2 separate regions of the Homo sapiens genome follow, and region 1 is linked to region 2. Evidence: fine-mapped expression QTL. A gene starts in region 2. The other region holds a variant in brackets. All regions are shown on one strand. Distances are from middle to middle. Region 1 overlaps AVEN (apoptosis and caspase activation inhibitor). Region 2 holds the start of CHRM5 (cholinergic receptor muscarinic 5).

What was found.
Region 1: its variant is fine-mapped to the expression of CHRM5 in tibial nerve (GTEx, PIP above 0.99).

What each region holds. Positions count from the first base shown.
Region 1 is chr15:33,988,382-34,004,293 of GRCh38, forward strand. It overlaps AVEN (apoptosis and caspase activation inhibitor), which reads right to left. Exons shown (of 6, transcript NM_020371.3): 2 at 14,651-14,828. All of the region lies in intron 1 of CHRM5 (cholinergic receptor muscarinic 5), which reads left to right. Among named protein-coding and RNA genes, the nearest start is that of CHRM5, 28 kb to the left of the region's middle. The variant G/A (reference allele first, on the strand shown) is at 7,888.
Region 2 is chr15:33,962,945-33,978,856 of GRCh38, forward strand. CHRM5 (cholinergic receptor muscarinic 5) reads left to right here and starts at 5,553. Exons shown (of 3, transcript NM_012125.4): 1 at 5,553-6,206. The region is part of intron 2 of AVEN (apoptosis and caspase activation inhibitor); the gene reads right to left.

The sequences.
Region 1 (15,912 bases), 25 kb after region 2:
AAATTGTTGAACTTTATTTCTAAGGCTTAGTTTCTACATGTATAGAATAGAGATAATGAAACCTACCCTATTAAGTTAAAGTTAGGATTTAATGAAATAGAGAATGTGCCCGTGTAACACATCTCACACACAGCCTGCAACTGGTAGGTTTCAGGAAATGACAGCACTGATGACCGCCATCAGCTTGTTAGCTTAAGGTCACCTGTGGTTGCAGGGTCACTAGTGGCCACAGGGCTCATTTACACACACACGTCTTGCCTATTTATGAAGCCTAACCCTTCTGAGGACACTGGGTGTGCTCACTTAACACACAAGTAAAACACTGTAGAATTATCGCAAAATTAAAAGACAAGAGAACAGAATTACAGGGTTGAAAAAACTCCTTGATAAATGACCTTGCTCTATCCCATGCAGCAAGAAGGACCATTGTTGAACCCATTTCCATTAAATGAAACCAAATCCATTTTGAAAGATTTTCAGTAAAGGTGATTTCCCAACTATCCCTTGGATGCCCAGTTAACACTCATAACACAAATGGCTAATCTAAATCCCCTGTATTTTAGTTTAAGCACATTTGATTTTTTTTTCCTTTGTCTTTACAGCTTGGAAAACACAAATTATTAAACCATTTCTCAGGCTTCTTTTGCTTAGCATCCTAAACCTTTCATCATAAATCCTGTTTTTTCTTATTTTTAATCATCTTTCAAGTTCCCTGTATCACCTCTATAGTTGCAGAAGTTAAAATAGTTCAACAAATCCCACACAAACACACACAAAAAAGCTAAATAAAAGAGAAGATGAGTTAATGATCATTTATTTTTCTAATTACATATATATGTTAGTACCATGCTTGGATATTTTCATGACAGCCCCGTGTTAATGACCTAATTTCAAATATGACCCACAGTATATTCTAACCCAACAGTTTGTTTCTCTTCACCTAAAAAGTAATTCTTAGCTTTTGTATAGAACTTTATAATTTGTAAAATAATTCCACATGATCGTCACAACTACCCCTAGATTAAAGCAAGGAGGTATTATTTCTAACAGCTGGTTTTGTTTGGAGTTTAAAAAAAAAAAAAAGGTTCTAAGACAACCAAAACCAAAACTAAGATCCCCTGACGCCCACCAAGTGTTCCTTCTATTCCACCACCTAAACACATATACTACACTTCAGGCACACTACTGAAAAGATGCCTTTCCTACCACAATACTAACACTACAGCCGTCCCTTTTCATAGTCTCTGAATTCATGTTTCATGTGTTTTATTTTAGAAGAGCTTCTACCCTGATTTTCTTTAAGGACTTTATCAAAAATAACCTTTTATTATCTTTCCAGATCAAGTAAAGAGAATTTATCAACTTCCAATTAAATATGACATTGATCAGAAGCATTTATTTGCTCTCCTTCCCAAAACCCACCTAAAATTATCTTAATTTTTTTAAGGAGAGGTATGAGTCTAAAAGATAATCATACAAAGAAGAGACAATAGCAATTGAGACGGATACACTAGATGCTATTAGAACGTGGTACCCAGATGAGGCCGGGTTCAGTGGCTCACCTCTAATCCCAGCACTTTGGGAGGCCAAAGCAGGAGGATCACTTGAGGTCAGGAGTTGAGACCAGCCTGGCCAACATGGTGAAACCCCGTCTCTACTAAAAATACACAAAATTAGCCGGGCGTGGTGGTGGGCGCCTATAATCCCAGCTACTCAGGAGGCTGAGGCAGGAGAATCACTTGAACCTGGGAGGCAGAGGTTGCAGTGAGCCGAGATTGCATCGTTGCAATCCAGACTGGGCAACAGGGTGAGACTCCGTCTCAAAAAAAAACAAAACAAAACAAAAAAAACTTAGCCAGGCGTTGAGGTGCGTGCCTATAGTCCCAGCTACTCAGGAGGCTAAGGCAGGAGAATCGCTAGAACCTGGGAGGCAGAGGCTGCAGTGAGCCGAGATCACGCCACTGCCCTCCAGCATGGGCGACAGAGTGAGACCCTGTCTGAAAAAAAAAAGAAAAGAAAAGAATGTAGTACCCAGATGATTTGATGATGCAGCCAGTTGTCTAACTGAAGAGTAACTGGAATATAAGTCATTTGATAACCAGAAGAGTATCTGGAATACAACTTAAACTCAGAAAAGATTCACTAACGTTCTCTCATTAAGCCATGTCCAGTATAACTAGCTTAAATTATCTAATAATAAACATTTAAAAATAAACAGTCCTTCATGTGAACTTGAAAGTACAGTCTCTGCTAGCGATCCTATGGCTCGGCTCTGGGGGCCTGGGACCGGAAAGATAACCACAGCAGCCAAAAATGGTGATAGTGAAAACAATGGCTGCTCTGGGGACCGAAACCTACCACCATCAAATCAAGTATCATTTTGATGACTTTAATTTGCCGTAAGACGAATTTTTAAAAGGAACAGACTAAATTGGATGAAAGCTGGATACCTCTGGAAATAACAAAATTCAACAGGTTAAATTACCTAACAACAGATTTTAATATAATAGAAGCACTGAACAAATCAAAGGCAGAACTAATGAAAATACAGATAAAACTAAAATCAGAAGATTTTTCCAAACAAACCTCCCTCTGATTAGTACAAAATGTCCCTCTGGCAACTGATGAGTAGAAAAAAATGATGTAAAACCAGATCCATTCATATGAAAGGCTTCCCAATGGATGCAACTCCTGATGACATAATTATTTTATGTCTAATCTTTTAAAGATTAGAAGATAAAGGACAAGCACTAAATATTCAAATGAGAAAAACATTACACAAAGCATTTAAGCAATCAACACGTGCAGTGTTTGACGGTATTAAATCCAATAAAAAGTTTATAGAGACCCTGGCCCTGAACCCTGGTATAAAAATACAGACCTTCTAACACTTTTCAAGGAGGATTATTTTGCAAAACAAGAATGAAGCAAAACAAAGTATAAACTAAATTCAGAGCTAAGCAAGAGCAAGAAGAAAAATGGAAGTGCTGCAAAAGATAAATGCTTGAGAGGATGGATACCCAATTTTCCATGATGTGATTATTATGCATGGCATACCTGTACCAAAATATCTCATATACCCAGTAAATATATATATCTACTACGGACCCACAAAAATAAACTTTAAAAAAAAAAAAACAGAAGTGCTGAGGATGCTCAAATGAAATGTCTAGATTGAATGTTTGCTGAAATTTTGGGATGACTTAGATAATGTGACCTGTAGAAAGCACCCACATATCCTTTTCTCAAATCATGGGGAAATAAAATGGATACACTTTATCAGTAGAGCAAAAGAGAGATTAATTCTATGTAAGAAAAAAGCTAAAGAAACACTAAATAAAGCAGAAGCAGCCAGCAATTGTAACCTATGACTAAGAAACAAGGAAGAGATGTGGAAATTACTAGACAGAAAGGTAGAAAAAGAAACACTGAAAAAAACTCATGCAAAATCACCAAGAATCTCTAAACAAATGAGAATCAAAAGGTCATAGATTTAAAGGAAAAAGAAAGGGAAATAAAGCTGCCTAGGCTGGATCTGCTAAAGGAAATGCACAACTTCAGGGCAGGAAAATGATAGTTCAGGATGATGAAAATGATGCAGCTGGACCAGCAAAAACAAAGAATTGCTTCAAAACAACAGAAAACACAAAATGGCGCTGGAGACTAGCAGTTTAGCACACAAATTCTGCTCTTATCTTTTGAAGGTTTTTAAAAAGAAAATCAGGCCGGGCGCGATGGTTCACGCCTGTAATCCCAGCACTCTGGGAGGCCAAGGCAGGGGGATCACGAAGTCAGAAGATTTGAGACCATCCTGGCTAACAAGGTGAAACCCCGTCTCTACTAAAAAAATACAAAACAGTTAGCTGGGCGTGGTGGCGGGCACCTGTAGTCCCAGCTACTCGGGAGGCTGAGGGAGGAGAATGGCGTCAGCCCGGGGGGCGGAGCTTGCAGTGAGCCGAGATTGCGCCACTGCACTCCAGCCTGCGCGACAGATCAGGACTCCGTCTCAAAAAAAAAGAAAAAAGAAAATCAAATTAGGCCCAATATTCAATATTCAGCTACAAGGAAAAGTTTTTTTGTTATCGGAGTTTTCCTTGTTTTTATTTTTTTGGTTATCCAATTGAAAATTTTTTTAGCCCTGTCAGCCAGAACAAATTTTTTAATTTATAGTTCTGTTTGTGTTATTTCAGATGTTTTAAATATCAAAGGGAAGAATCTTCTTCTACTATATTGCCTTTGTAATATGAGACTATATTGGCACAAACTATATACCATACAAGAAGAGGGAAAAAAATGAGCTGAATCAATGAGGACAAATAAAACTGTCTTGTTGCCTCATGGAAAGAAAAGGTTCGAGGTTTAATTTAAAAGTACAGGCTGCTAGAGTAATATCCTTTCTTTTCCCTTCAGTCTAATTGTTGGCACAAGGAACAGAGGAGGGAAGAAATTCCAATGTCATTACAATTAAAATTTCCTACCCAAAATAGCTTTTCATAAAATTAAATTGAAGAAAATATATAATAGTTTTAAGCAAAAATATGCACAGACAACAACTATACTGACCAAACTGCAGTCTGGTTATTTCGTTTTTATTTGTATCTCTAAAAATAGTGTTTACAGACTTGCACATAATATTTTCCCCACGTTTTCTTCAATATTGATCCAGTGCATTCTGCTCACACTGTTAAACATTTTTCTAACTCTGGCTATCTGTGACATCTTGAAAGGAACAGACAATGCATATTGCATGAATTCAATGATTTGACTTTTGGGGAAAAAAAATGAAGGGCAGAAGAAATTTCTCATAGATCTTACTTTTTACGTTTGAAGGTAAGAGTGGGGTGCCATTTTCAAAGCTCTTGAAACGTAACTTAGAACTGCCAAGAATACTGTTCAAAAAGAAAAGCCAAAGGCATGATTATCTCTTTCAGAGACTAACAGAAAGAGTTCTACAAAGACACCTAAAGACTCACAATCTTACCAGAAAAAGTATGACTTTGAACAACCGTCCCCTTTCCCATATCCACCACTAATAAAAATGAGAGTGTCACTGTCAGTGGTCAGAAACAAACAGAGCAGGCAATGCCCGTGTGGCACAAGTGGAAGGAGGCAGGCTGGAAAGGGCTGCCTCTCCAAAAATGGTTCCCACCTCTATGGTGGTAACAGAAATTTTACCATTAGAAATCCACTTTTAAAGAGTTTTATTCCTTTTATAAAGAGATCTGTAAAATAAAAAATTGATAATACATATGAGCTTATAGAATAATTATTAAACCAACATAAATAACAATCATCCAGGCCAGGAAATAGAATACTGCCAACACCACACCTGCTACCGGGCCCTCCTCAATCATTACACCTCATCTCCCCACTAGAGGTGACCGCAATCATGATATCTGGAATAATCATTTCCTTGATTGTCACTTTAGTATTTAAATATACATCCTTAAAAAATAGGGTTTTTTTTTCCTGTGTTTGAACTTTATATAATAGAATCATACTAACGAATTCTGTGGGCATGTTTCTTTTACTTCATGCTATGTTGAAAAGATTCATCCACTTATTTAAGTATTCATTCCACTATTAATGAATATTTGCGTTGCTTCCATCTGAGGCTCTTCTGAACATACAGCTGTGAACATTTGGGCACACACGTGCTGGAGTTTCTCTAGAACAGGGGGTCCCCCACCCCCAGACCATGGATCAGTACCGGTCTGTGGCTTGTTAGGAACCGGGCTGCATAGCAGGAGGTGAGTGGTGGGCAAGTGAGCAGATTCTTCTCTATTTACAGCCACTCCCTACTGCTTGCATTAGTGCCTGAGCGCCACCTCCTGTCAGATCAGCAGCAGCATTCGATTCTCATAGGAGCCAAACCCTATTGTGAACTGCACATGCAAGGGATCCAGGTTGCACGCTCCTTATGAGAATCTAAGGCCTGATGATCTGTCAGTCTCCCATCATTCCCAGATGGGACCATCCAGTTGCAAGAAAACAAGCTTAGGACTCCCATTGAGTCTACATTATGGTGAGTTGTATAATTATTTCACTACATATCACAATGTAATAATAATAGAAATAAAGCACATAATAAATGTAACACGCTTGAATCATCCTGAAACCGTCATCCTCACCCTGGTCTGTGGAAAAATTGTCTTCCACAAAACCGGTCCCTGGTGCCAAAAAGGTTGGGGACCTCTGCTCTAGAGTATCCTTTAAGGGTGAAAGTGCTAGATCTTCAGTTTTATCAGAAAATGGCAAACTATCTTCCAAAGTGAGCATCGACATATACATACAGTGTGTGTGAAATAGAAATTCACTTTTTAATTACAAGTCTTCAAAAATTCACTGTTACAATGGAAATCTACTTAGAGAATATATGTTAAGCTATATTCTCTACTCTTGAAGTTCTATATTCTCTACTCTTAGATAAAGGTGTACTCTTAGATAAAGGTCTATCTTCCAAATAACATTTGAGAATTGGACCAGAGGTCCAGCTAATTTGGGAAGAAAAAAATAACATACAGGCAACCATCCACATTGGTAGATTTAACCAACCATAGATCAAAAATATTTTTTAAAAATAAAAAATAATAATACTGGCCAGGCACAGTGGCTCACACCTGTAATCTCAGCACTTTGGGAGGCCAAAGAGAGAGGATCACTTGAGACCAGGAATTCAAGACCAGCCTGGGCAACACAGCAAGGTCCTGTCTCTACAAAAAAATGAAGAAATCAGCCAGGTGTGGGTGGCACACCTCTATAGTCCCACCTACTCAGGAGGCTGGGGCAGGAGGATTGCTTGAGCCCAGGAGGTCAAGGCTGCAGTGAGCTATGATCATGCCACTGCACTCCAGCCTGGGTGACAGAGGAAAACCCTGTCTCTCTAAAAATAAATGAATAAAGAAAATTATTTTAAAATAACAATACAACAATAAAAATACAAATAAAAAATAATACAGTATAACTTTACATAGCACTTACATTGCATTAGATATTATAAGTGATTTAAAGATGATTTAAAGTATATAAAGGAAGGTATCTATACTTTTTGCATAGGTTATATGCAAATATTTTGCCATTTTATATCAGAGACTTAGCATTCCTAGATTTTGGTATCCACAGGCGTCCTGAAACCATCCCTCTTGGATACCAAGGGAAAACTTTTGAGTCCTTAAGTCCTCAAAAGCAATTGCAACAAAACCAAAAATTGACAGGTGGGACCTAATTAAACTAAAGAGTTTCTGCTCAGACATTTTTCGAAGTTACTGAAATGACTAAATGAATCAGATGCTTCAGACCACACCAAACTGCAGGTCATAAGCCATTAGTGGGACATTATATCATTTGGGTTTTTAAAATGCTGCTGCAGCTCCCAGCGTGATCAATGCAGAAGACAGTGATTTCTGCATTTCCAACTGAGGTACCTGGTTCATCTCATTCGGACTGGTTGGACAGTGGGTGCAGGCCACGGAGGGCGAGCTGAAGCGGGGCGGGGCGCTGCCTCACCCTGGAAGCGCAAGGGGTCAGGGGATTTCCCTTTCCTAGCCAAGGGAAGCCATGACAGACTGTACCTGGAAAATCTGGACACTTCCGCCCAAATACTGCGCTTTTCCAACAGTCTTAGCAAATGGCACACCAGGAGTATATCCCACACATGGCTAGGTGGGTCCCACACCCACACAGCCTTGCTCACTGCTAGCGCAGCAGTCTGAGATAGACCTGTGAGGCAGCAGCCTGGCAGGGGGAGGGGCGTCTGCCATTGCTGAGACTCGAGTAGGTAAACATTGTGGCTGGGGAAGCTTGAAGTGGACAGAGCCCACTGCAGCTTAGCAAGGCCTGCTGCCTCTGTAGACCCCACCCCTGGGGGCAGGGCATAGCTGGACAAAC[G/A]GCAGCAGAAACTTCTGCAGACTTAAACGTCCCTGTCTGACAGCTCTGAAGAGAGGTGTGGTTCTCCCAGCACAGTGTTTGAGTTCTGAGAACCGACAGACTGCCTCCTCAAGTGGGTCCCTGAACCCCATGTAGCCTAACTGGGAGACAACTCCCAGTAGGGGCCGACTGACACCTCATACAGGCGGGTGCCCCTCTGGGACGAAGCTTCCAGAGGAAGGATCAGGCAGCAACATTTGCTGTCCTGCAATATTTGCTGTTCTGCAGCCTCCGCTGGTGATACCCAGGCAAACAGGGCCTGGAGTGGACCTCCCACAAACTCCAACAGACCTGCAGCTGAGGGACCTGACTGTTAGAAGGAAAACTAACAAACAGAAAGGAATAGCATCAACATCAACAAAAAGGACATCCACACCAAAACCCCATCTGTAGGTCACCAGCATCAAAGACCAAAGGTAGATAAAACCACAAAGATGGGGAGAAACCAGAGCAGAAAAGCTGAAAATTCTAAAAACCAGAGCGCCTCTTGTCCTCCAAAGGAACGCAGCTCCTCGCTAGCAAGAGAACAAAGCTGGATGGAGAATGACTTTGATGAGCTGACAGAAGTAGGCTTCGGAAGGCTGGTAATAACAAACTTCTCCCAGCTAAAGGAGGCTGTTCGAACCCATCGCAAGGAAGCTAAAAAGCTTGAAAAAAGATTAGATGAATGGCTAACTAGAATAAACAGCGTAGAGAAGACCTTAAATTACCCGATGGGGCTGAAAACCATGGCACAAGAATGTAGCAAACAATAAAATGTAACATTCTTCAGGAAAAAAAGCAAAATTAGAACTTCTAGAAAATATAGGAGAACATCTTTAACCTTGGGAGAAAGATGGATTTCTAAAGGCATAAAACAGCATAAACAGTAGGATAGAAAATTGATAAATTCAACTAAAATTTAAAACAATGCACTGAAAGACACACTATAGAAGTGAATCTCATATCAGGAGATACCTGCAAACACAAATATCAAAAGATAAGTATCAAGACTACTTTTTTTTTAACCCACAAATCAATAAGAAACAAAATAGCCAAATGGTCAAAGAATGTGAGCAGCAGTTCACAAAGAAAGCAAGCACCACAAATACAAAGATGTTCAACCTCAGTAATAACTAAGGAAATGTAAACTAAAAACTCCAAAGACGAGGTCTCCACACCAACTCACAGCCAGGCACACCCGTATTTTTATATAAGACTATATCATTACCGTCATCCGCAACCCCCTGCCCCACCAAATCTCAACGTCAAACATTCTAATCTACAGCCACCACTTCCCACCTCTCCAACTCACACTTTCTCAAGAAGGTCAATAATCCTTCTGCCCTGAAAAAATCTGTAGTCCTGTGATCCCAATATCTTTTTACTGCCCCTCATCTTCTCTCATATCTTCACTTATTTCCTTATCCCACTTAAATTCATTTCAATCATTCTAATCATCTCCTTTTCCCTCTCTCATTTCATTGCATTTGCTCTGCTAAACTGTAATCATGATTAAGTCCTACCCTTCCGTCCGGTCTTTCTGGGCCTGCACCCATACAGCACAATATGAGTCAGGGAAAAGTATACCTGTTCTCACCTTAAATTTATGAATACCAACTTCATGTGGGCCCCTATTGTCACCCAACATCTATACCACATTTTCCTACTTGGAAAATAGGAAACTATACTTTCCCACTTCCTTGACAACTATTTCTTACCTTCTGCTCTCTCCTTCCACTTCCAGTACCTCCTCCACAACACTTATCCATGGTTTTCTTAGACCACTTCCTCAAGCCTCCATGACATCTACCCATCTACCCATATCTATGCCCATATATTCTGCCTTTCCTCCAATTACAGTTGGAAAACTGCCCAAGCCCCAGCAATGGGCCATCCCTCCACCTGCACAATAGATCCTATCAAGCTCATATCTACTAAAGAACACAGATCCAGGAATTCTCACCCCTCCCCTTATGATTTTTGTCCCCTTTTCTGGATCTATCAACAAGTAAACATGTAGTTATTTCTCCCACCTTTAAAAAAATGTCTTAACTGGCCAAGCATAGTGGCTGACATCAGTAATCCCAGGACTTTGGGAAGCCAAGGCAGGATTGTTTGAGCCCAGGAATTCGAGACCAGCCTAAGCAACATAAGAAGACCCTGTCACTACAAAAGAAATGCCAAAAAAAGAAAAAATTAAAAAGTCTTGACTCACTTCTCCCACCAGCCCATTATTCTCCTTTCCTTTATAACAAAACTCCTTAAAATTAAGTCATTTATACCTGCTGTCTCAAACATCTCTTCCCACATTCTTTTTAAATTCAAGAAAAAATTTATGCCACCACTCCAACAAAACTGCACTTGTGAAGATCACCAATAACCTTCCTGTTAAATTTAACAGTCAATTCTTCATTGTCATCAACTGCATTTGATACAGATCTCTCCTCCTGCTTCAAAACACTTAAAGACACTACACTCTCTGGTTCTTTCTTCTACCACTCATGCTCAGTCTCCTTTGCTGGTCTCTTCTCTTTCCCCTAAACTCTAGACACTGTGGTGCCTGGGAATCAGTACTTCTCTAGGTAATAACTCCCCCTGTCATCTCATACATTCTCACGACTTTAAATATCATCTATAGGCTGGCATCACCCAAATGTATTATTGCCAACCCAGGCCTGGATCCTGAACCCCACATTCCTCTATCCAGCAGCCTGCTCCATGTCGCCTATTAGATGTTGTGCTGGGTCTCTTCCATGTGCCAATGCAGATTTATCCTCCACCCTTCTCCAACCTGTTCTACCCTAGAAGGTTGACCAATATGGATTACAACTTCCCTTGTCTTCTGGCTTCCAGTAGGTTAGACTTATGGAAGCCTTGGCAGAGGGAGGAAGAGAATGTTTATTCCTCTGACTCTCTCAGAGTGGGGTCATCTTCACTGGCTGAGTCCCCTCACCGAAGGTGATTCATTCTCCCAAGGCCAACTCTCTATGACTCCCTTCAAATTTCCAGTAACTAGGGTGGTAACATCTCTGCCGCTACTTGCCCTCTCAACACAGCACTACCTCAGTGCTTTCATTAGACTCTACACATACCTTTGTAAATGATTCCTTTGTCAAAGTGTTCAATTATATTGAGTGTGCCAGCCATTTATTAAGGAATTCTGACTGCAACAGGTATCAAAGTGACATCTCACTTTTAATACATGCAACACTGGTACCTCCTATAACTTACACACCTCAGTTAAGGGCAACTCCCTTCTTCTCACTGTTCAGACCCAAAACCTAGTGTCATCCTTACGTATCTTTTTCTCTCATACCCAGCATTTGCAAGTGCTCTCTGCTCTTCTCTCTACGTAGATCTAACCCAACCACTTTTCACCACCTCCACTGCTCTCCTCTGGACCCAGCAACCACCACCGCTGCTTACCTGGATTATTATTAGTGGCTTCCTAACTAGTCTACCTGCTACTAGTAGTAGCAGTGGCTTCCTAACTAGTCTACCCGCTCCCCTCTTGCCAGTCTTCAGTTCCTTCCAACACAGCAGAGTGATCCTGTTAACACAGGAGTGTTATATCACTCTTCTCTTCAAACCCTCCGCTGGTTTTTCATCTCACTCAGAATAAAAGAAAACATCTTTACAATGGTCTACAATACTACGCGATCTGGCTGGATAATGCCTTTCTGACCCCATCGCATATTCGCTCACGTTGCTTCTGCCACACTGGCCTTCCTTGCGATTCCCTATCCTCCTATCTCAAAGCCTTTGAGCTTGCTATTCCCTTTGCCTGGGACACTTTTCCCATAGATATCCTCACTTGCTCCCTCACCCTCCTCAGATCTTTGCTCAAATGTTATATTCTCAGTAAGACCCCTGGCTACTTCTAAAACTGGTTAACAGCCCTTCCTCATTTTATTTCTATTCTAAGCAATTATAGCATTTAACATTTTATATACTCTTCTTGTTTGTCTCTACCCTCTAGAAAGTCAACTCTGTGAGACAGGTGTCTATATCTGTTCTGTTCACCACTCTATGTCCAGCCTCTAAGCCAATAGCTGGAACAATGGGTACTTAAATATCTGTTGAATTAACTACACTAGATACCATTCAATCAACTGGTCACAATTTAAAAGTCCAACAGTACTAGCTATTTGCAGAGATGACGAACACCAGGAACTCTCTCATCTTTACCGTGGAAAGCAATTTGGCAATATCTAGAAAAGTTTATGATTGCACACCTAAGGAACCAACAATATTTTTTCTCAGTTGTCTATTTATTTATACAAACAAGGATAGTACACTAGAAAGCAGAATTGTTTCAAGGAGTATGGTCAGCTTACCTAGAAAACACTGCATACTCTAGAATTTTTATTATCAGAGAATGAAGTTGACCTCTCGAAAGTAAACCAATATAGCACCAAAACACTGAGTATGAAGAAAGCATGGAAGCTCTTCTCAGTCTTATGCTATCCTGAGAAGAAACTGATAAATCAGCAACAGAGTGGGAAAGAAATGTAAGCACATATCAAAAGACAAGACAGCTGCAATTACCAAAAAAACCAAAACCAATCACAGATAAACAAGCCACTTCAGAAGAAATCAGTAAGCAAAGAGACTACAAGAAAAATACATGAGAGACTCAATCCATGCCAGGTTTTTAATTATATATAAAATGCTAAAATAAATAACCAAAATCATAAACCAGAGGACAGGCCTGCTAGGTTGGACTAGAATTTTTTTTTTTTTTTTTTGAGACGGAGTTTTGCTCTTGTTGCCCAGGCTGGAGTGCAGTGGTACGATCTCAGCTCACTACAACCCCCACCTCCCAGGCTGAAGCAATTCTCCTGCCTCAGCCTCCCTAGTAGCTGGGATTACAGGTGCCCGCCACCACGCCCAGCTAATTTTTTGTGTTTTTAGTAGAAACGGGGTTTCACTATGTTGGCCAGGATGGTCTCGAACTCCTGACCTCAGGCAATCTACCTGCCTCGGCCTCCCAAAGTGCTGGGATTACAGGCGTGAGCCACCATGCCCAGCCTGGACTAGAATTTTTAACTGCCTTCCAACATTTATGAAGTATCTTTTTTTTGACAGATACTAGTAACTGACTACACAACTGATTGAATTAAATCTACTTTAGTCCACAAGTTAATTTCATTGTATTACTTCAATTTTCTCCCCCTAGATCTTCTGGCAGAACAGCTGTTGAGAATTAAAACTAACCAGCTCATATTTTACCTTCATTCCCCTTCTCCCACCTTGAAGAAAAGTGCTTATAAACCCATAATTGGCCAAAATATAGGTACCAAGAGGGAAGCACTCATTTTACAGGAAAAATTATTTAGTGTTACCAGTTCTTGAACAGTCAATGAGTTGAGAGCAATCCACAAACCTAAAGAAGTTATGCTATTTGAATCATCTACGGTAATGACGAATCCTGTGCTCCTGACTCACAATTTTATGATCTACTTCTTTCCTGCTCGGAAAAGCACATTCTATTAAGTTAGAAGAGAATGCATCACTTTATTGTTCTTAGTCTGGTGCCAGCATTCAAAAATACAGGCAGATAAAGAAGAAAGGTAGAACTAAACAGCAACATCAAAGTCATGAGGAAGAAAAAATTCAAAGCAGTCCCAAAGTATTATTTTTGTTTTACTTCCCTGCTTCTCACATCTGCATCCTTTATATCTTTTTAACCTGGCAATAATTATTTAGCGACGTAATTGCAGATTCACACACAGTTATAAAGAAATAATACAGAAAGATCTCTTGTACACATTGCCCAGTTTACCCCAATGATAACATTTTGCAAAACCATAATATAATATCACAACCAGAAGACTGACACTGAAACTGATACAATCTGCCAATCTTATTCAAATTTATTCATACTCATTTGTGCACACGTGTGTATATTAAGTTCTACACAATTTTATCACCTGCGTAGGTTCGTGTATCTGCCACCGCAGTCAAGATACTAATCAGTGTCAGCATCCCAGGGATCTGTCACGCTGCCCCTTTATAAGCACATCCGCCTCCCACCCTCCCATCCCCAACACCTGGAAATCACTAATCTATCTTCCAGTTATTCTTTAAACTCTTACGCCACACCTCAGTAGGGACCCTGCAGCCATCTGTACACCCAGCACTCCTCCATTCTTCCCTGTTACTGCTCTCCAGCATCACATCACTCAAGGTGCAATCAATCTTAGATTACAGCTGATCACGGAAAGGCTGGGTTTTTCACTTTATTGACAGAGAAGACTATCCAAAAGCAAAAACAAAAACTTGGTGTTCAAGTGCATATAGCTCCAATATGTGCATATCCACTACTATGTATATACCTGGCTACTTAAAAAAAGGAAAAAAAAGAGAACATATATTCTAGAAACTTTATAATGCTTCCTACAAATATAAGGAATGTTTCCTCCAATATCAAAGAAAACATTTATGTTTCTCAGACTATCAAATTTACAGCAGCATGGCTCAGCTTTTTCCACTTATAGAAAGCCTTTTATCTATCGCAAAGACTTTAGTCATTCTACATCGGTACATGGAAACCCTTACTTCCACTTAAACTCATTTTTTTCCCTTACAAGCCATTAGAAACACTGTCCTTTACTTGAATTAAAAATCCAAAGAACAAAGGATAAATTGCTAGTTATAAAAGTAGAATTTAAAAACATATATAAAATGTCTGTGCAACTTTCAGAGCACTAAACAGTATGCATGCAACTGGAATTCATACCTGCAGAGCTAAGGAGGACACTGAAATCTGTTCCCCTCTGTGACTCTCCACTTTCATTATTGACCTCTTTTTCAATATCTTGATATCGATCCCAGTTAGAGACAATCTTTCTTTTAGAATAATTTCCCTGTTCATCATTCTCTTCTCCATAGGTCTCTGCATCGCTGTCATCTTCAACCTGCAATCATTAGAGACAAATCAATAAGTAAGCAGTGGAAATCCTGACCTTAGTAGACTTCCCAGTAAAACAAAAAAGTACATGGACATAACAATAAAAAGCAATAGACCAAGCTGTCTGAAGATATTAAATATTATTTTAAGAGAATCACACTATACCAGAGTGTTCTTTTAGGGTGAACTTTCCAGTAATCATTGAAAAGGAAATCTAGCAAGCAGCTGCCTAAACATTTGTGTAGCTGATCTCTAAAATTTATCCCTATGTATCCTATTTCAATAGTTGCTTCATCCAGTTGAAATAATCAAGGCTGTAAGCATCTTAAACTCAAAGGACTTCAGGATGGAAATCAACTCTCCCTTTCAATTTATGGATATGGATTTTACAAACACATTCCATAAACATGTTTAAAAGCTTTATTTAATTTTTTAGAGCAATGAAAGTATGACATTATTTAAAACTATTTAACTTAAACATATATTACTAGGAAAACACTATTACATATAGTGAGGGACAATGACTTGTGAAATGGAGTGTGAATTTACATGGTACTACATTTATACATAAGATTCCATACTCTAGAATAATGAAAACCATTCCACATCTACATTTGTTTTAGTACTTCTTATTAACAACTTGAGTTTGAAATAAATACATGTTATGACCAGAACCATCCAGATAGGTGATTAATGAACATTCTGATGTTATATATTGACTCAAATCTATTTTTAAATATTGAGAGGAGACAAATTACTGACAAAGTCAAGGCCACTTCATTTGCCCTTGATAGCCTTCTGTGAGTGCCCTCTCAGGTACTCTCTTAGCACTCTCCAGGCTCAATTTCTACAACTTGCCTGTGTGATTGTTCAGGTAGCGTCTGTGTGAGCAACTAGTTGTATACATGTGGACACACACACATACACAATGCTCCTAGAAAAAAGCTAGCACAAAATCTTAATTCAATAGAAAAGCTTGGGTATAAAAAAGTTCCCTGTATTACAACTGACTATGTTGTATAGATTTTTAAATAGGAACCCTGCTCAGATGCATGCTAGAGAACAGTTTCCAGTATTGGGCACTGAAAGGT
Region 2 (15,912 bases):
AAAAAAAAAAAAATTCTCATACAGAAGTATAATCATTAAGCGGATAATGACTAAATCAAAATTGTGGCCTTCCTAACATGGGATAACTGAAGAGAACAACTCCTAACAGTTAGATGCCTATATGAGAAGGAAAAAGAGCACTAAAATTTATTGTGTAAAATGGATGGCAGGACTAAATTATCTCTACAGTCCCTTCCAGCAGTAAAATTAAATTAAATTCCATAATAATTATGACAACTCTTGACATCTACTAAGCATCTGCCCTCTCTGTGCCAGGCACTGTGCTAGGTGCTTTGCATGGGTTAATCAGAATATGTCCCTAAGACTGTTTCTATGAGATACCTGTCTATTTAAACAGCCCTAACAGACAAGAGATCCAAGAGGAAGATAGATCCTTTCTTTAAAATTTATCTGATATAAAGCAAAATGGAAATGGAAGGTCTAAAATCTCTGTGGGGTCTGCCTTGTTCACTGAGACAGGCAGTGGCTGGCTTTTGTATGAAGTGCTTCCCTAAAGATCAGATGCCAGAGCTGCTGAGAAGGGTATCAGAAAGTAAAACACCAGAACCCAGCCGGGCGCGGTGGCTCACGCCTATAATCCTAGCACTTTGGGAGGCCAAGGCAGGCGGATCACTTGAGGTCAGGAGTTTGAGACCAGTCTGGCTAACATGGTGAAACCCCATCTCTACTAAAAGTACAAAAATTAGACAGGCATGATGGTGGGCGCCTATAATCCCAGCTACTCAGGAGGCTGAAGCAGGAGAATTGCTTGAACCTGGGAGGCAGAGGTTGCAGTGAGCCGAGATCGCACCACTGCATTCCAGCCTGGGCGACAGAGCGAGACTCTGTCTCAAAAAAAAAAAAAAAAAGAAAACGAACAAACAAAAAAACCCCAAAGCCCATCCAAATAATCCTATTTGCCCCCAGAGAATGGCTCCTTGCCAGATTGATGCAGTATCAGGGCTCATCAAGAAAGCAGGAATGATCTCGCTACAGAGAGTATTAGTGGGGCATTCACAAACTTAGAAATCTAAAAGACTCCAGTCATTAGGATCTAAAAGGATGTGATGTGGGTGTGCCTAACGTGACATCTTGTGACCACACGTTCAAATGTTAGTGTCCCCACTAGCCTACAGGGTTCTTAGGGTCTAAGTCCTTACTTAAAAAAAAAAAAAGTCTACCGCCAGGACATAGCATAGTTCTAGAACCTGGAATATAGGAAGCATTTCACAAATACTTAATGAGGAATATTAGTACCCAATCTCCCCCCGAACGTATCTGTTCCACTTACTAGGGTATGGTTGTAAAATCAGAGCTTTCTAAAGTGTGGTCTGGAGACCTCTAGTGGTTGTCTGCAGTTCAGTATAAGGTCAAAATATTAAGGATGACAAATTAGGAAAGAGCCAAATAATAGGTCACAGGTTAAGGCCTGAGATGAGTGAAAAAAGTGGGTGCTATGGTAGAGGAATAAACTAAAGAAGTTTAAAAATGAAAGATTCATTTAAAGTGTCTAAATTAGAAGATAAAAATGCAATCTTTTTTTCTCCAACAAACTGATGCCAAAAGAAAAAAAATGCAATCGTTTTACCCGAATGTAATACATATGAAGACAGCAACTGTTTCCTAATAATCAACTGTATTGCAAAGTACAACCACTCTAGTTCATATCCCCCCTCATACCACTACTTAGTTTTAAAAAAAAATTTAATAGAACATAAATGAATAGTATTTTAAAACACATTGCTATTTGAGAGGCCATAATACAATTTTGGAAAGAAAAATAAATCACCCTTTATAAATTCAAGACATAGAAACAAGAAGAACACATTCCCTATATATTAAAGACAGTCAACTCTCCAGGTTATCTAAGATCTCCAAGAAACTGCAGATTTCATTTTTGTAGAATGTTAGTCATGCTGGAGAGACGCCACTCTTTCAACATTATACTGGGAGTCTCACGCTTAAGTTGAATGATGGTTATTCTCAGTAGGCAATCTTACTGGACTTTAAAACCACCTAGGCTGGGTTCATACCACAGTTCAACATCTTAATAACAGGGTAAACTTGAACAAGTTACTTAACCTTGGTGTACCTCAGTTTCCTTCTTTATAGAAGATGAATGATAACAGTCTGCCTCAGAGCTGTTAAAAATTATGCATTATAAATCCAAAGAACCAAGTGCACTGGTCTTGTACCAAGTAAGGAGTCAATAAATGTTTATTATTACAATTAATGTGCTAAAAATGGCATGGCATGACTCACGTAAGTCAACAAAGGTTTGATTTCTTCAACAAGAATTTAAAAGCATATTTATTTTAGAAACAGCTTCCATAAGTCCACAATACTCTCTTAAAATGCAACTTTTTCTCTTCATTTATTAACTGAAAAATAATCACACTCAATTGAGATTATACATATTGAAATGCCCTAAAAGGAAGCCGTTGCCATGGAAGAAATCATTAACCACAAATCCTACTCATCTAAAAACTGGAGAGCATAAAGGAGAGACTTTTTTTCTTTATAAAAGTATTTATAATTTTGTAAACAGCTATGAGCATAACTCTAGGTATGGACCAAATGTTCTAGCAAAAAAGGACCTTGTAAAAGAAAAAATCATTTATCTTATACATAAATTCATTTGAAAGTCTGTGATGCCTCTGAAGTTGTTTAGCCAACTTTACAGTGGGCAATGGGAGAGTTCAGTTTAAATATGAGAATACATAGAGTTGTAAAAAGGGAGATGAGAGTTGAGACATCTGAACAAAAGAAAAATGTGCTTTATTATATGTATCAAAGAAAACATAAAAGTCCATATCCCTAAGACTTTCCTCCTCCTCCTCATATTTAGGGTGGAAAAACAAGCCATCCACCCAACTAGCTACTCAACCTATTAGATCTCTGAACAATACAGTTCATGTAGACAACTCCTTGCTTCAAAGCAGAAAGTTCATCCTGTAGAAAGTAAAAATAAATACAGCTTTTTATTAAAAAAAAAGAACAACATCAGGAATACCAAGAGCAAAGTCTTGGAGAAAATTACTTTCCACAATGGCTGAAGTATAATTTGGAACTGTACAGGCCAGTACTTAAGTCAATGTTTTTCCATTAATTCAGTTTATAGCTAAAGTACTGAGAGATAATGATATGAAATATTTGCACCCAAAATACACTCATAATCTATTATTCCAGTTCCCTCTATAACCACTTTTTCACCCACCCTACAAAGTTCTCCAGCAGAACCTGCATATTTGCAAAGTGTTCTCCTATGTTGACATTGTATTATAAATGACTGAGAAAAATTTCAGAGACAACTTGGAAAGAGAATGGAAGCATTTTTGCTCACCTTTTCCCATTCAGCTTATCTGTATTAAATGGTGATAATCAGTAACTATTTACTAAGCTTTCAAAAAGTGATTGGCACATATAGTCCTTATTCAGCAAGATTTAAAGGACAAGGTATAATTTGAGAACATAAAGTGTAACACAAAGCTCCCAAATGTTCATGCCATAACATGACGTATGACAAGAGATACTCAAGAGTGAGCACCTTGGGAGAGAAGTATTCTATTGCCCTCCATAAAAAATGGGAGCACGGTCCTCAGCAGTGGCTTTGAGCTTAGATGGAAACAGAAAATTATAATTTCCATCTACACCCCTTTAATGGCTCCCCATATTCACCACCCCCATTCTCTTTCATCCAGCCAATTTGAAAGATGAGATAAGAGTGAGAAGAGACAGAGAACCTGAATGAGAATGAATTTCGACAGGTGAGGGTGTGGCACACAAGTTATTTTCAGGACCTCATGCTATTGTATTCTTGGAAAAGTTAAGTGGACAGCCAAATGTTATGCTTTACCAGAAAGGAGCTAGGAGTTCAAACTTCATAGAAAAATTAAAATCCATTGGGAAGAAACCTTGACATTAATGAAAAACATATATAATATTATAGTCATCGATCCTCATAAACACAATGGCCCCATTTGATAGATTTTTACTTCTCTCATTTTGGATCTCCACTGAACTCTAAGTCACATTCAATCATTGAAATGGCTTAATAATCAGTGGCTTAAAACTTGGGGTATTTATTATAGAAGTGACCAGTATATAATGACCAATCATTACCATATGAAATTACAATCCTTTTCAGTATCATGCAATGTTAAGTGGGAAAAGTTCAAGAAAATATTCTAAAGATATGTTCTCTTGCATAAATATTCCTATTACAAATGTGTGTCAAAGACCACTATAAAACTAAAATTCACTTCTTTCTCATACATGTTCATCTGTCAGTGTTTAAAATTCTATTGGCTAACAATTAAAGTGTATACTTTGTCTGGATTCTCACTCAGAAAAAACCTACATAAAGACATAGTTTCTGAGACACAAGGAATTTAAAATGAACTGGATATTATATGACTCCAGAGGATTATAGCCAATGTGTTAGGTGTGATAATGGCACAGGGTCATGTGAAAAAGTGTCCATACTTTAAAAATATACATACTAAAGTACAAATAGGTGAAATGAGATTTGCTTTAAAATATTTTAGCAAAGAATTGAATCTGACAATTGTTGAATCTTGGTAATGAGTTTCTGGAGGTTCATGTATTATTTTTGTATTATTTTTCAGAGTTTTGTGTAAGTTTGAAATGTTCCATAATAATTTTTTAAAATTTAAAAACATTATATTGTCTAGATACACTCATAAAGAACTCAGGCAGGGAAAAAACGTTTAAATTTAAAATTTAAATTTTAAACTGAAGTGCAGTTTTAAAAATTTGAATTTTAAATTTAAAAACTGAAGTGCAAAAATTATGAAATTGACATTTAAAAATCTATTCTTTTATACAGCTAATATGGATTTCATCTAACTTAAGGAAAAGCTTTAATGAAGACCCTGTTAAAAGTTTGTATCAAATGAGGACTTATAATGCTTTACTCCAAAGCAACAAAACGCATATGCCCAAAAGATGTATAAAAACAGGCATACATTTAGGAAAAAAAAAAAAGGCAGCCTTTTCTCTGCTACAAATATTTAAAACTCACAGTATACTCTTTCTATCTCAAAGACTTTTAAAAATTATTTTCCATCTTTAGGGAAAACCATATGAGAAAATAACTCAGCAACATGTCTGTGAATAATGCCTAGCAAAGCTTAAAAAAAAAAAAAAAAAAAAAAAAAAGCTTCTAGCCAAAAAGACTAACAGGAAAAAATGAACATTTTCAAAAGCATTTTGGAACCTTATTCCAGCTACCTCCATGCTAAGCCCTCTTTTTCCTCCCAAAATACGTCACTTAACTGTCTGTCAAATAACTCTTGCCCATTCTACCTGATCACACTCTGAAGCTGCAGCTTTTCCTGGATTCTCTTCTCAATGACAAGCTGTTCAAACAGAGAACACCTATCAAAACGAATATCATCATCTGCTCCTTTCTTTCTTCCTTTCAGGATATACTGCTGTCCAGCAGGGGAAGTAATTAATGAGTTTTTTATGTATGGCAGCGTCATCCCATCAGTTTGCTGTCTGGTTTGAATAGCTCCTATCAGCTCTTCATTCATGCCAAGTACGCTCACCGTCCAGAGACATGATAAAGCCGTACTTCCTTCTGGATTTTTACCTCACTATTCAAAAAACAGGGTACCAGAAGCATGGGTTACAAAAGCATGAGGAGGACAGAAGAAATGCCTTCATCTTCTACAGAAAGGAAGCTGATGGACTGAAAAGTTCGTATGGAGAAAGGAAAGCAAGAGTGCAAGAACATCCATGCTTCTAGTCCAGATAATGTTTTTTAAAGCAGCTTGATTTGGAAGCGTGTGTAATTCTGAAATACGAACAAGCAGAACTTTTCCAGGGGGTCAAATGCATATAGGAACAACCAGGATTTCTCATTGCTGAAGCATTCAATGAATCTTTAATAAGTTCTCAACACTCAGATTGTTTGTGATCAGATCAACTGCTGTTACCAGATAAAGGCAAAACTCACCCTTCTGGTTCTATAATCCTATCCAAATGGAGTCTTCATCTACCGCATACTATCCTAACTAATGCTACAGGATTATCAGGAATACAGATATAAAGACACTGCAAGAAATAAAACACTGGCAAAATAAAACATGAAAGGAAAGTAGAGAAGGCATTTTGGGTCTCGAAGCTTACTATTTCCAGCCAGAGTTCAAATTACTGAGCTTCAAACAAACCACTGCCAGGTAAGATTTAATTTTATAACCTTAATTTATATCTTGTCTACTGAAATTAAATCTGCTCGTGCTGTGAATGAGATAGTGGATTTGAATTTCTTGCAACCCTTCCTTAAGCTTTTGCAGATTTAAGCTGAGGTAAACGCTTGTTTTTACTTATGCTGCATAAACAAGTCACTCAGAACTAGATAATAAAGCATCCAAAACTCCCATTCATTTTTCATTGAATTTGTCTCATCTTTGTCTTTATTTTTATCCCAATTTTGTTTTATTTAATAGCTTGAAAAAAATGCATGAAGAGAGCCCTGAATGGTGCATAAGAGCCATTCACAGATAATGTTTACCAACAATATTCAAATGAACTTAGTTTCCCAGAGTACTTGATAAAACAAAGAAAAATTAATAAGCATTTTAAATATTTTTATTCATATAAAGGAACAAAAGCTCAATGACTGATTTCTATTGTTACTAAGAAAAAAAAGCTGTGATGTCATTTCATTCATACTAAAGAAAAATAATCTCTACTAAATCGAGGTATAACACTCTTGTAGGATAGGGCTAATTTATCCTAAAGATACTAGACATTTTTATAACAGACTAAATGAAGACATTTTTCTGATTCAACAAGAGGATAAAAAGATGAAAGATGTCTGGTACCTTAAAACCTCAAAAGCTTTGACTCAGGTCAGTGGTCCAAACTGTAAAATGCAAAGCACTAGTGAAGCCATCAAAGGATTTTAAAAGATACAGTGCCTTTAAGAAATTCCCTAGAAATCACTGCATAATGAGACTTCTAGAGTGACAATCTTATGTAAAAACAACAAAACGTTATCATTTAGCAGAAATCCCAACCACATTGGTTTTCATGAGTTTCATTGGAAAACTTAGGTCCAAAGCACCTTATCATAAAGAAGTCCTACAACAAATAATATTTATATTATCTTAGAAGAGAGGAGACAGGGAAACAAGAGCATATCACACCTAACTACGGAGATCTTGTGGTAATATACATAAAGTTATCAGAAGTAAGTATTCAATACTTGTCTAAAAGTAGTCAAATTAGAAATTCTCTTCCATTTCACTGAATTCTTTCCTTTTTTCAAATTTTAGTTAAGGGAGTAAATTATATGATCCCTTCAGGCTTTTCAAGACAGTCTATAAATAACCTTAAATATCATAAGTCTTTTACATCTGAAGTCATTACAGAAACTTACCTGTCATTTTCCAGTACCAAAGGAAAGCAGCAATTTAATACAAGTAGTGATTATCTAATACAACAATTTGTTTCAGAGAAAAAAATGTTTATTTAGAAATCTCAAAATACTTCTTATGCATACCAGACATAACTAAAAGTTAAGGGTGGTATTGTTGTTGTTTACCTACACTGAGAAACAGCTGAACCCTTAAGGGTTCTTTTCATCTGTTCCCTCCTTATTATGGTATTACAGTTTGTAAACAGACATGATTCAAAAATATGTAGATATTTTAAATGAAGAATATTAATCAATATTTTAAATTATAATTAAAGATTTTTTAATTAACTTGGACAAAAGTATGAAATTTCTACTATGCTCAATTTGCTTCCAATAAATGGAATTAAAGGGGGCAGATAACAATATTCCTTAAGTGTTCTGGATTTTATTTACTCATTGTAATGTAAACAGAGACTCATATCCCACTAATTTGGGGGCTTTGTTTCTATAACTCACCTTCTAATGACAATGGCTGGGCAAATGAATACTACCTTGCTCCACCCCAATTTGGTCCTTGTCAGCATCAATCCCAGTGAATTTTCACTTTCTTTCCTTTCCAAATCAAGGCTTTGCTCTATAATAACCCATTCAGAAAAGTGATTACTGAAGTTTTGGTAACAGCTTTCAAAAAAATACCCTACAGCAATTTGGAATAATCTGTATTTTCTTCATGTAGGGTGAAAAAAAAATTGAAAACTGCTTCAAGTTTACATCTCATGGGTACAAATGGATGAGGGATTTTATGCTAGTACCTGAAGATTTGGTTTATTTATAACAACTTTTCCCTGTTATTGATAGATTTAACAATTAAAGAGATTCTGAACAGTCTTGGGATGTAGTCAATGACCTGCCTACTTGTTTCTGCAATTTAGAATGTATTTCATTCACACATATTATATAAAAGTATTATATTGTAAAAGTAATGTGATTGTGTATCATTAGTTCCTTTCATAGAAATGGAGCAAATATTTTGGCTGCCATATCCTTATAATAATACCTATTGCTATATCCTTAAATTCTGGTCATTTTAAATTATCCAAAAGCTATAAGCTTTTTATTTAAACTATGATAAAATAAAAATGGCATCTAGGTCAAAATGAACACATCCATTTCGTGTATGTTGACATAACAATCTTAAAAAGTAATTTTTGTCTGAAATACCAAGCAACATAATTTTGTATATAAAATTAGAAACATACCTAAAATTCATTTTTCTGTGTTAGCATTCAACTTAAAGGGACATTGCATAATATTTTTAAATGCATTAAATATATATTTACTTATATCTTCATTATTATAACTTTAAGTTTTCATAAGGAATTTTTTTCATTCCATTATAATGGCACCGTGTTTCAAGCTTAATTCAACTGGGCATTTCAACTAGCCAATATATTTGTTCCTTATTATGGTTAATTTTCCTTATGAAGTGACCAAATTTGAATAAGGATGTAGTTCACCATGAAGATCATCTCCTCTCCAGCTTCTTCCTGCTGAGAGAGAACAATCTTTGGTTTGTGACATCACAATCTGTGACTGGGAAGTGGCTCTGATATCAAACAGATGATTATATGCTTTCAGTGTGAACTAGCTAAAAGAGAGATGTAAGCACTATTATTTCAAGTCATATCACCAAGACACTAAAGAGATGCATGACAGGAACTGAATTAGAGAAAGATGCTTTTATTGCATTTGTCACTTTTTCAGCATCAACTATTAAAGATAAAAGTACCATCTCACAGTTTTCTCATTAATAATTCAAAAGCGGGAGTAAACATCATGTTGGTTAAATTCACAGACCATGATAAAACGGGAGTAAGGAAAATACCAGTAAGCAAGCAGACAGTCATGAAAGAGGCCCCTAGAGAACTGAGAAATAGATGCAAAATTTCACCTTGGTTCAAGCAGAAATACTGATGCTACTCAGAAAATTGAAAAATTACCAAAACACCCAAAATGAGAAAGACGGTGTCTCTGAATGAGAAAGAGATCCCTAAATATAGATTATAAAGTGATCCCATGACATAGATTAATTAGTATCTGACACATGGACTAGTATGAGGGCAGGGAGGGGGCTGGTTAACACCTTTCTAAAACAGCATGGATTTGTTAAAAAACAAAAACAACAACAGAAAACAAAAACAAAAACAAAAACAAAAAAACAAAGGACTGTCTTGAATTAGCAAAACTTCTGTGTTCTCTGAAAGTCTTCAACAAATATTTGTAAAAAATAAATAAAAATAAATCAGGAGTTAGGGTTCAATTAAGGAAACAAAAATGAAAGCTCCTTTTACAAACACATAGGCATATACAGACCTCTTTTTGTAATCTTTGTTTGCAACAGTAGCCAAAAGACAAAGCAGACCAACTAATCCTTCCACACTGAACACATGTGCAGTCTGTCCTTTGATTAGTGGCAATACCCTGATTCAGAGTATCAGTCATTTGTGACTGACCCTCCTAGACTCAGAGCCTATACAAAGATGATGTGTAAAAAATACAGTTAACTACTCCACGCATAATTACAAGTCAAGCTGAAGTCTCATTATCTACAGTTACACAGATTGCTTGATCCAGTGGTGTGTAGAGAATTCTTAAAGCATTTATTCAGTCCTATGTACTGGTTCATTACAACCAATGGGTTATTCAGCAGTTGTTTAAAGATCTGACATTCTCCATTTTTTGTATTGAAATTATTAGTGAAATAACTCAAGAATCTGGACCAATCAGAAAACATTACCACTTTTATAGACATTGTTTGACGTCACACTGTTGTCATCATCAGACTACGTGGGCCTTCTTATTTCCTGATTATCACTATAGAAATGTAGCACTGAATAATGTGTTCTTTAAGAAGCAAAAGCCAGAGATGATTTCCAGTTCAGTTATCAACTAAAAATCCTTAGCTATTTATAGAATTTTTTGGTACAGTAACCTAGAAAGCTGTTGGTGTAAATCTATCAGGCTCAGTATATAACATAGTACAACTCTTAATATTTCATCAACTGTATACCTTCCCTTCATTTGTGTTGCAAAGACAGTCCTCTACATGCAGTAACTTCTGGGTAACTTCTGGTAATACCTACAGAAGAGCTTCTCATGCCTAGGAACTTCCCCAACACTTTGAGGATACTTCTTTCATAACACCTTGTTAGATTCCATTGAAAACCTATTTATGGCCAAGCGCAACCTGTAATCCCAGCACTCTGGGAGGCCAAAGCTGGAGGATCGCTTGAGGCCAGGAGTTCGAGACCCACCTAGGCAACACAGCAAGACTCCATCTCTATAAAAAAATCTAAAAGTTAAAAAAATAAGAAAATCTATTTATATAGTTGTCTGACATACGAAATTGCATTTTTCATGGTTGAGGGCCTTAAGAGTAAAGACCACATCTAATTTATCTGTCTATTCCCAAGGTAAGCTCAGGACTAGTTAATCAGCAGATGTGTTAAATGAATGTGAAAATGTATCTTAATGCATTCTCAGGTACAATCTCAGACAGCCAGAAGAATAGTGATCCTAAAATATACCTCAGCTGCATTTCACTGATAATAGGCAAGTAGGTAACTGCAGAAAAGTCTAATGAAGGAGTCTTTTAAAGTAGTTTATACTGAAATAATAGCTATAAGGAGATAATATCTGTTAGGGATAGTATATGATATTATGAGGTATGCAAATACAGGATAGCAAATTTATCCCTTATGCTTTTGCTCTATTTGACATATGGAAATCACGTTTGCTATACTACTAGATCTAGAATTTCATCGATAATCCAAAAGGATCTAAATTGGTCTTGCTATTAAAAAGTGACTTCAGGGGAATTTGAATAAGTACTTTGCAAATGAAATTGAAGAGATACTACAGTCATCTTTCTATTCAAAGATGAGTGGAGAAAGTGACACACTTAAAATCTTACATTTATTCTGTTGGATGCTCTACCTGCCCCCTCTCCCTCTTTCACTCTCTGTGAGGAATGAATCTTTGCAAGTTACCTATGTTATATCTCCCCAAGTCATCTCTTCTCCTTATGCCAACATACAATATACCAACAATGGTGATTTCTTTAAAAGCAGGGACAAAGGCTAAAAGACTATGCTGTGCCTCAACCCCTATGATAGAAATTAAAGTAGCAGAGTGTTGAAGTAGGCCAGCATCACTCTAGAATTCATCAACATGTGTGTTGGGGTGGGGGCAGCTATAGTCTGAAGATGCTCAGGGTACATGAATAATGCATGTGTACGTCCTCACAGAAATCTGTGATTTGATGTTGGCGTGCACAACTTAAGATTTTGAGCTTTGGGCCGGGCACAGTGGCTCACGCCTGTAATCCCAGCACTTTGGGAGGCCGAGGCAGGTGGATCACCTGAGGTCAGGGGTTTGAGACCAGCCTGGCCAACATGTTGAAACCCCGTTTCTAATAAAAATACAAAAATTAGCCGGGTGTGGTGGTGCATGCCTGTAATCCCCGCTACTTGGAGGCTGGGGCCGGAGAATCGCTTGAACCCAGGAGGTGGAGCTTGCAGTGAGCCAAGATTGCACCATTACGCTCCAGCCTGAGCAACAAGGGCGAAACTCTATCCTGAAGGAAAAAAAGAACAACAGATTTTGAGTTTTGACATCCTATCATGTTTTTAGCCATGTTCCTTCTTTCAAACACCATCTTAGATAAAATATCAAGATATAAGACATATAAGAGCAGATCTGCCCTGGTTGGGTTGAGACAGAAAGCTTAGAGCCCGCAGGTCCCCTTCTCACCCCATCTCTTCTACACTCTCTCCTCCACACGCTTCTTGGACACCTTCTAAGATATGTTTGTTGTAATTGTTCTGCCATCTAGAGGATTCACAAAGATATTCTTCTCCATTTTAATGCAAGTTTTTGATTCCATATAGACACTGCCAAATACTCTAACCTAAAACTCCTGGTATATGTCAAGCAATAGTATTTTCTAGAGCAAGAGGGCACAGGTTGCGAAACAGTGCTACTTAGCTATGCGGAATGCTACTCAATTATTCTGCTGCCTAAACATTGATCAAGCAACTAAGACCTAGGATTCAAATAAATTATAAGTTGATTTTAAAAAGGACTAAACATCTATAATTTGGGTTGGAATATTCCAGAAGTAACTAAAATTAACAAAATCTCAAAAAATTATTTGCAATCAAGAAAGCATAGAAACAAAAAGTGAGAATTTGTCATAATAGAACTCAGAATTCAGTGTGAGAAAACAACAGAATTTGTTAGAAATACCAGGTCCCAGCTGGGCACGGTGGCTCACGCCTGTAATCCCAGCACTTTGGGAGGCCGAGGCAGGTGAATCATGAGGTCAGGAGTTCAAGACCAGCCTGACCAACATGGTGAAATCCCATCTCTACTGAGAATACAAAAATTAGCCGGGCGTGGTGGCACATGCCTGTAGTCCCAGCTACTCGGGAGGCTGAGGCAGAAGAATCCCTTGAACCCGGGCAGCGGAGGTTACAGTGAGCCTAGATTGTGCCACTGCACTCCAGCCTGGGTGACAGAGTGACTATGTCTCAAAAGAAGAAAAGAAAAGAAAGAAATACCAGGTCCCTTGCATAATATTCTAGTATTATTTCACCTAACAACATTATACCAAACACTGGAGTTGTCCTGAGTTGTTTCCAGGTTTGTGAACTCTGCAATTTACTTGCTTTTGCAAGTGAGATGGGGCTCAAGTATTTAAGCTTGAACCTCCATATATAACTAAATATTACAACCAGCAGGATATATTGGATAAAATCAACTTTTAAAAGAGGAAATATGATCTTCCATCTAAAAAAGCCATGTTTCAATTATTATGACATACTATTTATATTACAATGTATTCATTTGCATTCAGTGATCATCTCCAGCACTGTCCTGTTCACTAAGGAATTCTCATAACTATTCATCCAAAATCTCAAATGATTCCTGCTTTGAAGTCAATCTCCTAAGTGAGTAATGTCGCTTTTTTCTCTAAAATACTTTAAAATATTTTCAAATATATTCTTGAGATTCAATTTTAAGTAGAGTTATTTTAAACCAACAACCAATACCCATGGACTTATTACACAGCTTTAATATAAATTTCTGCCATGCCCGCATCAGATTTTTTATGGCCTCTCCATAAATGGATCTGGGAAGAAAAACTCCAGTAGACAACACACTTTTATTCTGTAAGTGTATTAGGAACTGGTTAAAATTTATATATCTTTATTTAGGCTTTTTAAGTATCAGGAATAGGACCTTCTGCAGGCATAATGGTATATCTCCATTTAAAATATTTTAAATAAATGTAAACAGCAAGACAGAAACAAAAAAAAAATTTAACATAAATGTATTGTACCTCTCCTGTCTCAGATGACCAGCTGAAATTTTTAACATAAATTTATTGTACCTTTCCTGTCTCAGATCCCCAGCTGAACTTTTGAAACAAACATCCTAGGCATAGAAACATAAGCTACTTTATTTTTCTATGCCTTTTCTTCCCATCCCTGAGTCAGCCAGCCTCCTGTGGTATAGTGACATCCTGGATGGAAGTAAAATAATCAAAATTACAGGGTCCCTTGGGAAGGAAACCAATTCCCAGCAGTGATTCCTTATATAGAAAAGAGATAGCTAAACTCATGGTCACAATGGCATGAATTAGTTATGGCAAGGTTAATATCTTGTATAGAAAAAAATAATTTTTGGCTTAAATTGGTACCAAGGAGATAGGAAGGTTGAAAGGCTGTCTCCTCACTAACAAAATCCGCACTACCTTTTTTAGCAACAAAATGAACAAAAAACACAAAATATACATTTAAAGGGAACACAAAAAGCTGGAGTTCTTACATGAGACAGGGAAGCTTGCCTTTAGGATAACAAGAACAAGCTCCAATACTCTTACTCTAAGACACTTTTTCTCATATATTGGTAGGATAGAAAGATCATCTGATTAGCACTTCAACAAAGCAGAAGATGAGACAGATTCAAAACAAATCCTCCCCTTATCATCTCCTCCTATACTCCCTTACTTTTATTTACAAGTACATAAAATACTGCATATTATAATGAATTCCGGTTTCAAACCTTGACATTCTCTTTTGTTAGGAGGCTATGACAGCGTGCTTTGATTCAGGGTGTTGTATCCCAGCCTCGTGGCCTCACTGAGCACCATTCTTATGCTTGCTCTCCTCCAAGGACACTTTGGAAGAAAGGATGGTACATACATATTTTCCTTCTCATTACAGCCCTATGTCTATGTCTGTGAAATTTTGAACCTTGAAATTCTGACTATTTCTACAAGTGAAGAATCAAACGTTCTCTATTACACTCTAAGTTTCCAATAATATGGTCTCAGAGCAAGTAAGTCCTCCCTGGCAAAACAGCCAGGTTTGAATTAGAAAGGACTATTTCAGGCCAGGTGTGGTAGTTCACCCGTGTAATTCTAACACTTTGGAGGCCAAGGCAGGAGGATTGCTTGAGCCCAGGAGGTCAAAGCCGCAGCAAGCTGTGAACACGCCACTGCACTCCAGCCTGGGTGACAGAACGAGCCCTGTCAAAACAGAGAAAAAAGAAAAGAAAAGAAAGAGAAAGAGAAAAGGAAAAAGAAAGGAAGAAAAGGAAGAGAGGAAGGGAGGGAGGGAGGGAGGGATGGAAGGATGGAGGAGGAAGCGAGAGAGGTAGGGAGGGAGGGAGGACCATTTCAAAAGTCACTATGTCTATATAAAACTATTTTAAAAACATAGAAATTCAACCAGAAAACCTTAGCGATCCAAGTACATGAAGAAAGAGGAAATTTCTCTCTAGGCAGAACCAATGCAGACTGGCCGTTCTGAACAAAGTGACACGTATTACTAATATTTCCTGAGCATCCTCTGAACATGTGTGGTACTAGACTACAGCAAACCCACTGTAGACACAGGAAGTCTCTTGAGTGAGAAAAACAGAGTGGGGGAGTACATTTAATAATTGGAAATAAAACATCAAATGAAAATTAAAGCGTACAGGCCGGGCACGATGGCTCACGCCTGTAATCCCAGCACTTTAGGAGCCCGAGGTGGGAGGATCACCTGAGGTCAGGAGTTCAAAACCAGCCTGATCAACATGGTGAAACCCTGTCTCTACTAAAAATACAAAAATTAGCCGGCATGGTGGCAGGCACCTATAATGCCAGCTACTTGGGAGGCTAAGACAGGAGAATGGCTTGAACCTGGGAGGCAGAGGTTGCAATTAGCCAAGATTACGCCACTGCATGCCAGCCTGGGTGACAGAGTGAGACTCTGTTTCAAAATAAATAAATAAATAAATAAAAATAAAAATAAATAAAATTAAGGTGTACAAATTCGTCCCCAGGCATTTGAGAAAAACAGAATTCGGCCTTACTTTTTCCCTTTCCCCTGGTTCCTACACCCAAGAAATATTAGAAGGATATATTAATAAACCACAAACTTAGAAGAAACCAGAGAATAATGTTCACTTTC